Linked DNA regions of Homo sapiens: region 1 is linked to region 2. The links come from fine-mapping of genetic effects on gene expression. A gene starts in region 2. The other region holds a variant in brackets. All regions are shown on one strand. Distances are from middle to middle. Region 1 overlaps SCIRT (stem cell inhibitory RNA transcript). Region 2 holds the start of VEGFA (vascular endothelial growth factor A).

Evidence for each region. PIP is the estimated chance that this variant, and not a neighbour inherited with it, causes the effect.
Region 1: its variant is fine-mapped to the expression of VEGFA in whole blood (TOPMed, PIP above 0.99).

What each region holds. Positions count from the first base shown.
Region 1 is chr6:44,056,043-44,061,404 of GRCh38, reverse strand. All of the region lies in intron 1 of SCIRT (stem cell inhibitory RNA transcript), which reads left to right. Among named protein-coding and RNA genes, the nearest start is that of SCIRT, 16 kb to the left of the region's middle. RefSeq lists a silencer at 2,292-2,361 and an enhancer at 2,662-2,841. The variant T/G (reference allele first, on the strand shown) is at 2,408.
Region 2 is chr6:43,767,788-43,773,149 of GRCh38, reverse strand. VEGFA (vascular endothelial growth factor A) reads right to left here and starts at 2,939. Exons shown (of 8, transcript NM_003376.6): 1 at 1,838-2,939. The coding sequence starts at 2,443. RefSeq lists enhancers at 1-216, 217-982, 983-1,748, 1,749-2,514 and silencers at 970-1,489, 1,560-2,499, 2,877-3,126.

The DNA of each region.
Region 1 (5,362 bases), 290 kb before region 2:
ACACTCGTAATTTTTTGAGGGTACAAATCTGCCAACACACTCATCATTTAACCCCCAACTTTCTCTGGGGAACTTCAGGAAAAGCATCCCTGGGCATTAACTCATCTAACTGCTTATCATGGCGTTGATGTCACCCCTGAGCCTGCTCTTGCCCAGGCAGAACAAGCCCGATTTTTTCCCCCTTTCCGTCGGGCCTGTGTTTGCCCTCTCCATGGCATCTGCGGCCCTGTCTGGCCTCTTGCCAGCTTCTTGTGACCAAATGTGGACCTGGCCTGGCCAAGGAGGAGAGCTTGGGGGTCAGGGCCTGACCTGACAGCTGTCCCTCCAGGGGTCCCAGGCAGTGGTACCAAAATTTAAGCCTTGGCTGCCCCCACCCTGCCAGGTCTCCCTACTACCCCCATTCCATCTTATGCCGTCAGGATCCTGATGTGTGTTTATGGTGTGGTGCTCCCAAGGCATTACCTGGTCCTTTAGGTCCCCAAAGCGCTGGAGATATTATTCTGGAGTGAGGAGTCCAGGTTTCTTTCCCTAACTCATGCCACAGACCAATCAAGTGGCAGCTTCTTGTTCCTCACACCCCAGGGCAGGATTTCAACAGCAGCAATAATAGCACTGACTGCTTACTGAGCACTTGCCTTGTGCCAGACACTGTGATGAGCACATTACAGTAGCCCTTTCGCTGAATACTCACAACAGCCAGGTGAGGTGGGGTCCACGGGTATCCTTACTTTATAGGAATCCCAGGCACAGAGAAGGGTTTTGTCTGGGCTGACAACGGATTTAATGCTACACTGATTCTCTGTTTAGTTTTGGTTTGGTTTTTGAATCACTTCACGCTGGCCCTGAGTGAGGCGATAAGGCCCATTCCCAAAGCACAGGTGGGAAAACTGAGAGTCCGACTTGGGCAGTGAGTCAGGTAGGCCATCCTGTTCTGCTATCCCCACACCCCTAGCCTGGCTCTCTGTCATCTGAAGTGTTTTCCCAGGGTATTTCCTCCTTCTAGGTATTTCTCCTCATCTCATGCATTTACCTGGGCTCTTCCCTCCTTTCCATCCATCTATCTATCCATCCATCCATCCATCCATCCATCCATCCATCCATCCATCCATCCTCCTGGAGCCAAGTCCTCCCAACAGGGTTCCTCCTGACCTCACAGGGCAAGTAGGAGGAAGTGCTCCTGGATGGGGACATCACACCCCTGGTAACTCTTCTCTTCTAGACACCTCATCCATCCTACTCTGCCCAGCCACACATGAGTCGAGATTATTTCACCAGAGGAGAAGCTTGTATCAGTTAAATTTTGGTTTACACAAGATAAATAGTGAATTTTTTGCTCATGTAAAATATTTCTGGGATGTGGTCAGAGACTCCTTCTATCTTTCTGACCTGCTAGGTGTGGTTTCCATTTCCAGGGTCACCTCATTGCCCAAGATGGCTGCTGGAGCCCCAGCCAGCAGGAAGGAAGAAGAAAGCCTGAAGAAGGACATGCCCCTTCCCTTCAAGGAAGCTTCCTAGAAGTCACACTTATATTCCATTGGCCAGAACTCAGTCATCTAGCCATACCTAGCTGCAAGGGAAGCTAGGTAGTCTAGTCTTTATTCCATGGGGGTCTGGCTAAAAGTTGGGAAATAAACGAGGAATGGATATTAGGAGACAGGATCTGCCACAAAGCCTCTTTGTTCCTTTTAGATTGCAACTGCCAGAGGGTAAGTGGGGCCTTCCCAACGCCCTGCCTCAAGCAATCCTGGTTCTCTCCCTTCTCTGAGGTCTCAGTTCTTCCCTGATACTCAGTAGTTACTGCCTGGAGCTGCTAAAGGCAGCAGCACAATGCCACATCCGGCTGCCGTTGGCTGTTGTCCACCGTCTGCAGATCCAGGCCAGTGCACTCACTTATCTCACAACAGCTCAACAGGCAGCTAGTCTTAGTCCCATTTTATAGTTGAGAAATTGAGGCCTAAAGAGGTTAAGTAACTTGCCCAAGAGCACGCAGCTGGGCTCTGAGCCCAGTTCCTGTGTGTTTCTTTCTTTCCTGTTGAGCCTTCCCTGTAGGGGTGGATGCCCTGGGCCTTCTCAGGGTCTGACAAGAGGAACTGGAATGGTCTGAGCCCTAGGAGGGGCCTGTCTGGGAGGAGAGGGCAGGCAGGGGCGTGACCTGGGTCCTCAGGTGTCTCCTCAGCACTTACTCAGTGCCATGGTCAGCGAACGCGTCTGAACAGAGTCTACTGACGGGCTTGGGGATTTCTGCTGGCGCCAGCAACTGGCCACTGCAGCCACATCCTCAGACGCCACTTTCCCCAGAATAAGTGTCCTAGACCCAGCAGTGAGGAAGGACAGGGATAGGGCAGCTTTTGTCACTTCCCTTTCTTTCCTCCAGCCCTCCCCAGGGAGGCGGGGGAGAGGGGGACTG[T/G]TTACTCTGCTTTCACCCGGGGGAGGCAGCAGCAGGGGACTCAGCACCTACCCCAGGTGGGCTGCTTGGAGGGGAAGGTGGGGAGAATGTGACCAGCGCTGAGGGGAAGAGGCCAGACGCTGGGCTTCTCTGGAAGACCAGGGCCATGTGGGCCATCCCCCTGCCTCCGGGCAGGACTGTCCGTGCTTGCTGCCGAACATGAGTGTGAGGTCATTGCTCTGGTCTCAGGGGTGGGGGGAGGTGCTCTGAGCGTAAGTACGGTCACCGCCTCTACTTGTGGTTAGTAATGTTACTGTAATATCTACTCCACGATCTCTGGCCAAGAGGAAAGGCTCAGGAGTTGTGAGTCACAGCTGGCTGTCGACAGTGGGGCAGGTCATGCGCAGCTTGAATGGGGGTGTGCTGGGGATGGCCCTGAGACCCAGACGTAACCTCTGTCCTCAGGAGTTCCTGCCAGAAACAGATGATGAACTGGAAGAACAGATGTGAGGCTGAAAGTCCCCAGTCCATGTCCTCCTCCACCAGGAAGTCTTCCTTGATGAACTGCCTTGGGATTGCTCTGGGATTGACCTTGAATTCCTAGCTGTGGCAAGATGGGCTTCTTTTTACTTTGCCATCCTGCCAAATCTGAGCACTGAGCACCTACAGGTTGTGTGCTAGGGGCAAGGGCATGAATAGGAATGTGGTGCTTTCATTCAAATCATTCATTCAGTCATCAAATATGCCAGGTGCTCAAGATACACGGGTGAAGCCATGGACTCAGCTACTCTTATAGAGCCTGGAAAAGGAGAGTCTTAAAGCAAGTAGTCACACCAAAAAGAATTACAAACTGTAATGTGTGCCAAGAGGGAAAATTACATGGGGCTCTGGGAGAATATCCTAGGGACTTAGTTTAGATGGGGGTGTGGCCTGATATTTAAGCTCAGTTCCTGTCTTGCTCTAACAAAGTCCCAGCCTAGCTGGGGACACACACGCACGCGCGCGCACACACACACGCAGAAATGTCTGGGAAAAGATGATGTTTAACTGACAGTTCACTGTATCTTCTTGGTCCGTCCTAATGTTCCTGAACTGGAAGCTCCCTGCATGCCTGGATCATGTCATGTTTGCATGATCAAGGTCCTGCCACCAGGCCTCTGGTACAGGTGGTGCCTAGGAAATATGAGTTCTTTGCATGCCATTAGGAATTATCTGTCCACCACCAAATTAACTGCTCTAAGAGTGCCAGGGTGGAGGATTGGAGCTGTGTGGTCATCCAGGAAGGCTCTGAGGATGAGGAGGGCAGTGATTTGAGTCTGGAAGGACTGAGATCAGGATGAAAGGGATGACAGAAGAGTGTTAGCCCTGTTTGGAGACAATGAGGAGACTGGGAGGTTGATGTTCTGGAAGGGAGTGGCTACGTCTCTGCCCTCAGACTGGCAGATCCCAGACAGCAGGAAGTGTCTCCTCCTTCAGACTGTGAGCTCCCTCAACTCTATGGGACCTGGCTTCTTGTAGACTGAGGCATTATTTGGGTGTGGGTGGACGTGGGAGTTGATAGTGGGTCTTCTATCCCCCCCCAACAGCCCTTGGGCCTCTGGGGAGAAGTCTGTGGACTGGCCCAGAGCCAAGGGACTCCTCTCTCCCTCTCCTCCCTAACATCTCCAGGAAGCAGGGTCCAGAGCCTCAGAGCTTCCGGTCACCTGAATGTGATTAGTGGGAGGCCTCTCCCTCTGGGATCGAGCCCTTGGTTGTGGCCTGAGGTCCCCAGCATGGCCCAGCCTGGAATTCATCTCCCAGCCCCAGTGCCCTTCTCCCTTTTCCCTTCCTCAGCCCAGCTCTGGTTGGGCCCAGGCAAGGCAGGAACTAGGGATGGTCCGGGGGGCTTCCTGGGGCTGTGCCACTCCTGATAGGCAGTGATTCCCCTGGAAGCCCCTCCCTTGCCGCCTGTGAAGGCTCTGCAGGGAGACAGCTCACCAACACGGTGGCATGCTGCCCACCAATGGGGGCCGTGCCAAGTGTGATGTGATGTATGCTGATCCCTCTCCACTCCTCACTGAGGACCAAGCGTCTGCTGCCCCCGCAGCACAGAGTGCCTGGGGCGGCTGTCCAATCACATCCATGGGGGTTTGGGGGAGATGTAGGAGTGGACAGAGGGTCTTCCTCGTGCTGCAGGCAGCAGGGCCAGTCTGAAAGAACCTCCCCCACCCCCAGAACTGGTCTTCCGCCCCCAGTTGATGGAGCCCCTGGGTACTGTCCAGGGTATCAGTCCCTCCGCATTTCACTTGTATCCCTCAATGGACAGAGGAGGTAGGCCCCATTGACCCTCTTGCTCCTCTCACCCACCGTGCTTTGGAAAACATATTGGAGATGTTTCCTTGCCCTCCTTTGTCCCACTCTGCCTGTTGGGGCCCAAGCACCAGGAGAGAGCGAGGGATCCTGGGGATGAAGGGGGCACAGAAGTGGTGTTGCATCCATCCCCTTGGAGGTAAGCGTGCAGATTGACTGGGCTCCATCTCCTTTCTCCTTCTTCAGGGTCCAGTTGTCTGCAATAGGGGCTGTGTTAGGTTAAAGGAGGTCCAAGGCCAGAGGCAGCTATTTTATTCAGGGGTAGACTCTTGGATCCCACCCAGAGACTCTGCTTCTCTAGCTCTAGGGAGGGTCTTAGGATGCTGCATTAAGAAAAAGCCCCCCCAGTGTTTGTGACATTAACGGCCAAGGAGCACACCCTGCTCCTGAGGAAAGATCACAGATTCTGAGGGATGGGAGTCTTGAATTCCAACCCGAGCTTCTCTGTTTGCTCTCTGGGTGACTTTGGACACTCATCTCTAGGCCTCAGCTTTCTTATCTGTGTAATGGGAGAGCGATACCTACCTTGAAGACTAAATGGGGCAAGTGCAGATAAAACATCAGCATCAGGCCTGGCACACAGCAGGTGCCCAATAATTACTGTCCTCAGAATGCAGCTGTCTCAGC
Region 2 (5,362 bases):
AGAAAACAACAGTTACCAGGCTTCCAGCTGGACAGCTTACCACTGCGGCTCCTGCAGGGACCCCCTGGATTCTGCACCTCAGCCCCCTCACCCATTCCCATGACACCCCCTGCCTTCCCCCTGACAATATTCTCCCGGGACCCTCCACTCCTCCTGGGCCCCAAGGAGGAAAGGGGACGGAAATTTCATACCCCTTCCAAGGCCAGGGAGCACAGGAGGGGCGGTTCTAGGCAGGCAGGGGCCAGGTGTCCTTCTCTGGGGGCCTCTGAAGGTCACACTGTGGCCAGGCAGCCACTCCTCCCCCTCCTCCCTACTTGGAGGCCTGTAGCCAAGGCCTTTGTGCCAGGGTCTGAGGAACTTGCGGTGTTAGCAGCGACCCCTGTCCATGGCTTTCCTCTTGCCTCCTCTCCAAGGGAATTCTGGCTGAGGGAAGGCGTCAGAGAGGAGCGGAAAGGGACCCTTTAGAGTCCCTTTCAGAAGCAAGTTGGGTGGGCAGGTTTGGAGTTCCAAAAAAACACCTGCTCCAGGGCTGCCTTTCACCAGGACAAAGTGTGTGCAAGGCTGGCAGGAGCTCCTTTCCAGGGTTCAGGAAGGACTATTCCCATGCTGCCCGTGTCACAGCAAATTTCAAGCCATTTCTCCAAAAGGGTAAAGTGGGGCAATGACTCTTCAAATCCTCCCTTGACCCACCCCCACGAGAGCTAAAGCACAGCTCACTCGGAACTGTTGGCGAGGGAAGGGAAGCACACTGTCACCAAGTCGGGACTTTCGGTGGAATGTGACAAAGCGCCCAGTGGGCTCCCGCGCCACGACTTCTGACAGTGATCATCCTTTCCCTGGACTCTGGGGCCAGAAAGGGGTTAGATGGATCTTCTCCGCAGAGAGAAATGAAAATAAGCGGGGTGACAGGGGCTTCTCTCCAGGCTAAAAAGGAAATGGGTGAAGAGAAGGGGCGTCAGGAAATTCCTCCTAGCACTGGGCAGAGGTAGGGTCTGGAGACAGTAGGAAGGGGTAGGGATGGTTCTCTGGATCCCCGGGCTGGGGCTACCTCGAGAGGTCACCTTCCCGCGGAGGGCTGGCGGGGGGAGGGGTGCCGCTCGCCACTCTGGGCTCCCCATTCGGGCAGCCGAGGCTCCGGGAACACGCGGCCGGCCAGGCCCGGGCTGATGTAATCGGCTCCGCGCCGCGCGCACCCGGCCGGGCGGGGGAGGGCGGGCACCGAGCGGGACGCGAGCGGGGACGGGCGGGGTTGGCGCGGCGCAGGTGGCCCAGCAGGGAGGGGGGGTCCCCGCAGCAATCCACCCCAAAACTTTTCCCAAACTCGCGGCGAGGGCTGAAGAGACCGAGTGGCAGTGACAGCAAGCCCCCTCTCCCTCCTGCGCCCTGCCCCCTCCACGCTCTCTGCCCTCCCGCGGTCCAAGGTCCGAGCACCCCCTGCCCACTGGTCTCTGGCTCCCGCCCCCGCTGCTCAGACTTCCAGTTCGTCCGGGACCAGCGGCCGGGAGCAAACTTCAGCCGGCAGCGGCAACGCAAGCCCAGCCCCCTCGGCCTCCTCCTCCGGCTCCCGCCCTCGGCTGGTCGGCCCAGATCGTACGTGCGGTGACTCCGGTGGGTGGGCAGGGCCCGCGTGGGCGGTGAGCCTCTCTCCGGGTACCCTCCCACCTAGCGCGCGCGCCCCCTCCCCCTGCACCTAAGACGACAGAGGGGGACGCCGCACGCCTGGTGCCCATGGACCCGCGTGGGGCACGGAGCCCCCACGCGCGCGCTCGCACGCACGTCCCCAGCCGGGAGAGGCGCTCGCAGCGGCCCGCGGCGCCAGCAGGGCACGACCGCTTACCTTGGCATGGTGGAGGTAGAGCAGCAAGGCAAGGCTCCAATGCACCCAAGACAGCAGAAAGTTCATGGTTTCGGAGGCCCGACCGGGGCCGGCGCGGCTCGCGCTCCCTCTCCGGCTCGGGCTGTGGGGCGGCCCGCTCTCCTCGGCGCCTCGGCGAGCTACTCTTCCTCCCCGGCCCGAGGCCCGGGCCAGGGCCTGGGGAGCGCGCGCGGCTGGAGCACTGTCTGCGCACACCGCCGCCTCACCCGTCCATGAGCCCGGCTTCCGAGCGCCGAGTCGCCACTGCGGCCCCCTCTCCTCTTCCTTCTCTTCTTCCTCCTCCCCCTCCTCCGGCTGCGGCTCCTCCCGGCCCGAGCTAGCACTTCTCGCGGCTCCGCTCGGCTCGGCTTCCCCCGCGCGGACCACGGCTCCTCCGAAGCGAGAACAGCCCAGAAGTTGGACGAAAAGTTTCAGTGCGACGCCGCGAGCCCCGACCCCCTCCACCCCGCCTCCGGGCGCGGGCTCCGGCCCCTGCCCGCGGCTCGCCGCCGCGTCCACTGTCCGCCGCCGGCCGGGGAGGAGGTGGTAGCTGGGGCTGGGGGCGGTGTCTGTCTGTCTGTCCGTCAGCGCGACTGGTCAGCTGCGGGATCCCAAGGGGGAGGGCTCACGCCGCGCTCCGGCGGTCACCCCCAAAAGCAGGTCACTCACTTTGCCCCTGTCGCTTTCGCTGCTCGCACGCCCGCGCGCTCTCTCTGACCCCGTCTCTCTCTTCCTCGACTTCTCTCTGGAGCTCTTGCTACCTCTTTCCTCTTTCTGCTGGTTTCCAAAATCCACAGTGATTTGGGGAAGTAGAGCAATCTCCCCAAGCCGTCGGCCCGATTCAAGTGGGGAATGGCAAGCAAAAATAAATTAAAACGAGAAACAATACAGTTTTAAAAAAAAATGTTTAAGAAAAAAGAAGAGGGATAAAACCCGGATCAATGAATATCAAATTCCAGCACCGAGCGCCCTGGCCGGTGAGTCCGCTGACCGGTCCACCTAACCGCTGCGCCTCCCGACAGAGCGCTGGTGCTAGCCCCCAGCGCCACGACCTCCGAGCTACCCGGCTGCCCCAAGCCTCCGCGATCCTCCCCGCTACCAGCCGACTTTTAAAAAAAAAAGGGGGGGGCGCATGGCTCCGCCCCGCCGGGACCCCGCCCCCGGCCCGCCCCGGGGGGCGGGGACAGGCGAGCCTCAGCCCTTCCACACGCGGCTCGGGCCCGGGCTCTGCGGACGCTCAGTGAAGCCTGGCCCGCAGCCCGCCGCAATGAAGGGGAAGCTCGACCCCCACCAAGGTTCACAGCCTGAAAATTACCCATCCGCCCCCGGAAACTCTGTCCAGAGACACGCGCCCGCGGGGCATTGGCGAGGAGGGAGCAGGAAAGTGAGGTTACGTGCGGACAGGGCCTGAGAGCCGTTCCCTCTTTGCTAGGAATATTGAAGGGGGCAGGGGAAGGCGGAGAGCCGGACAGGGACGGGTGGGGAGAGGGACACACAGATCTATTGGAATCCTGGAGTGACCCCTGGCCTTCTCCCCGCTCCAACGCCCTCAACCCCACACGCACACACTCACTCACCCACACAGACACACACGTCCTCACTCTCGAAGACGCTGCTCGCTCCATTCACCCAGCTTCCCTGTGGTGGCCGAGCGCCCCCTAGTGACTGCCGTCTGCACACCCCGGCTCTGGCTAAAGAGGGAATGGGCTTTGGAAAGGGGGTGGGGGGAGTTTGCTCCTGGACCCCCTATTTCTGACCTCCCAAACAGCTACATATTTGGGACTGGAGTTGCTTCATGTACAGAGAGCCCAGGGCTGGGCACAGGGGCCACAGTGTGTCCCTCTGACAATGTGCCATCTGGAGCCCTCATCTGGCCTGCAGACATCAAAGTGAGCGGCAGCCAACAGGCTGGAGTGACTGGGGTCCTTTGGGAAGTGTCCAGGGATGCTTCCCAGGGGAGAAGAATTTGGCACCAAGTTTGTGGAGCTGAGAACGGGAAGCTGTGTGGTTCCGGGGTTAGTCAGTGACTGGGAGGGAAGAGGACCTGTTGGAGCCCACGTATGCACTGTGGAGTCTGGCAAAACCCAAAGGGGGAGGCAGCTGGGCAGACAGAGGCCCTTGTTCCTGCTGCCCCCCCAACCCCAGATGTTGCCAGGGAACTGAGGCCAGGGGGCTGGTGGGGGCGGGTGGAGGCCAGGGCCTGCGTGATGATTCAAACCTACCCGCCAGCACTAAGGAACGTCTGTAGGCCAGCTGCCCAGAGCTCCCACCAGGCCAGGGGCCAAGGCTTCTATCAGCCCAAGCCCAGACTCATAGCTCATCTTCTGAATAGAAATGGGGGTTTCGTCTCAGCTCCCCCATTCCCTCAGGATCCCTTGGCTACTTCTCCAGGCTCACAGCTTCTCCCCTATCCTTCCCCCAGTCCCCTCCCTTACCTCCAAGCCCCCTTTTCCTCCAACTCTCCACATCTTCCCTAAGTGCTCCCAAAGGCCCCATCCCATTCTTGCATATAGGAAGCAGCTTGGAAAAATTCCTAGCTGGTTTCTGACCTGGCTATTTCCAGGCTGCCCCAGGGAACAAAGTTGGGGCTCTGAGGCCTGTGGGAAGAGTGGGACCAGTCAGTCTGATTATCCACCCAGATCTTGCCAGGGTCTGGCCTACAGCTGGCATAGCCTCTGTGGAGGCATGGACTGAGAATGGGAATGCAGCAATTTCCCTCAATTTAACCAAAACGCTCCAGGGAGCTTACCTAGTCAGCCCCATCCTCAGCACATGTTGCTGTGGTTTGGTGGAGGTGCTAGGTTACCTCCCCAGTACCCCCAGTTCCATCGGTATGGTGTCCTAAGGCCCTTATGAGGAAAAGGGCTGGCTCCCACCCACCCCAACCCTCCCTTTCCATCATTCGTGCACTAGTCCTGTCTCCACCACTTGGCAGGCTCCCCAGCAGCAGGGACAAGGTCTTTGTACAGTTAGTAAATGTTTATTTCCTGGCTCAGGGCCCCCTCCCAGGCAGGCCTCCTCACCTGGGCTCCATGCTCTAGGCTGATGAACGGGATATGGAAGGGAAGCCACTAACTTTCCTCCTTGTGCGCCTCTAGCACCCCAGGAGCACAAGCTGTAGACATCTTGGGGCAGGATGGAGGCTCTGAGCCCTAAGGGCTCATTCTGGCCCCCTCCCTTGCATCCCTTCTCAACTCGGCCTTCTTCAGCCCCTAAAAGAGCCAACAGACCTGAAAGAGCAGGTCTTAGTAAAAAACAAATAAACAAATCTGAAGCTAAGAGGAGGCTGGAGGGGTTCCAAGGAGGGATAGCCATCACCAGTCACTCCGTGGCCCCAGGCACCCCCCACCCCCATAAGCCAACTGTCCTCCATGGTGGTACCCAGCAAGGTGTGTTACAACAACCTGTTTGTGTTTCCCTCTGGGGCTTTGCCCAGGGATCCAGGGGAGTGAGGGCACAGAATTCCTTTTATATAAGGCTAGGATTACAACCTGGCCTAGGGGTTTT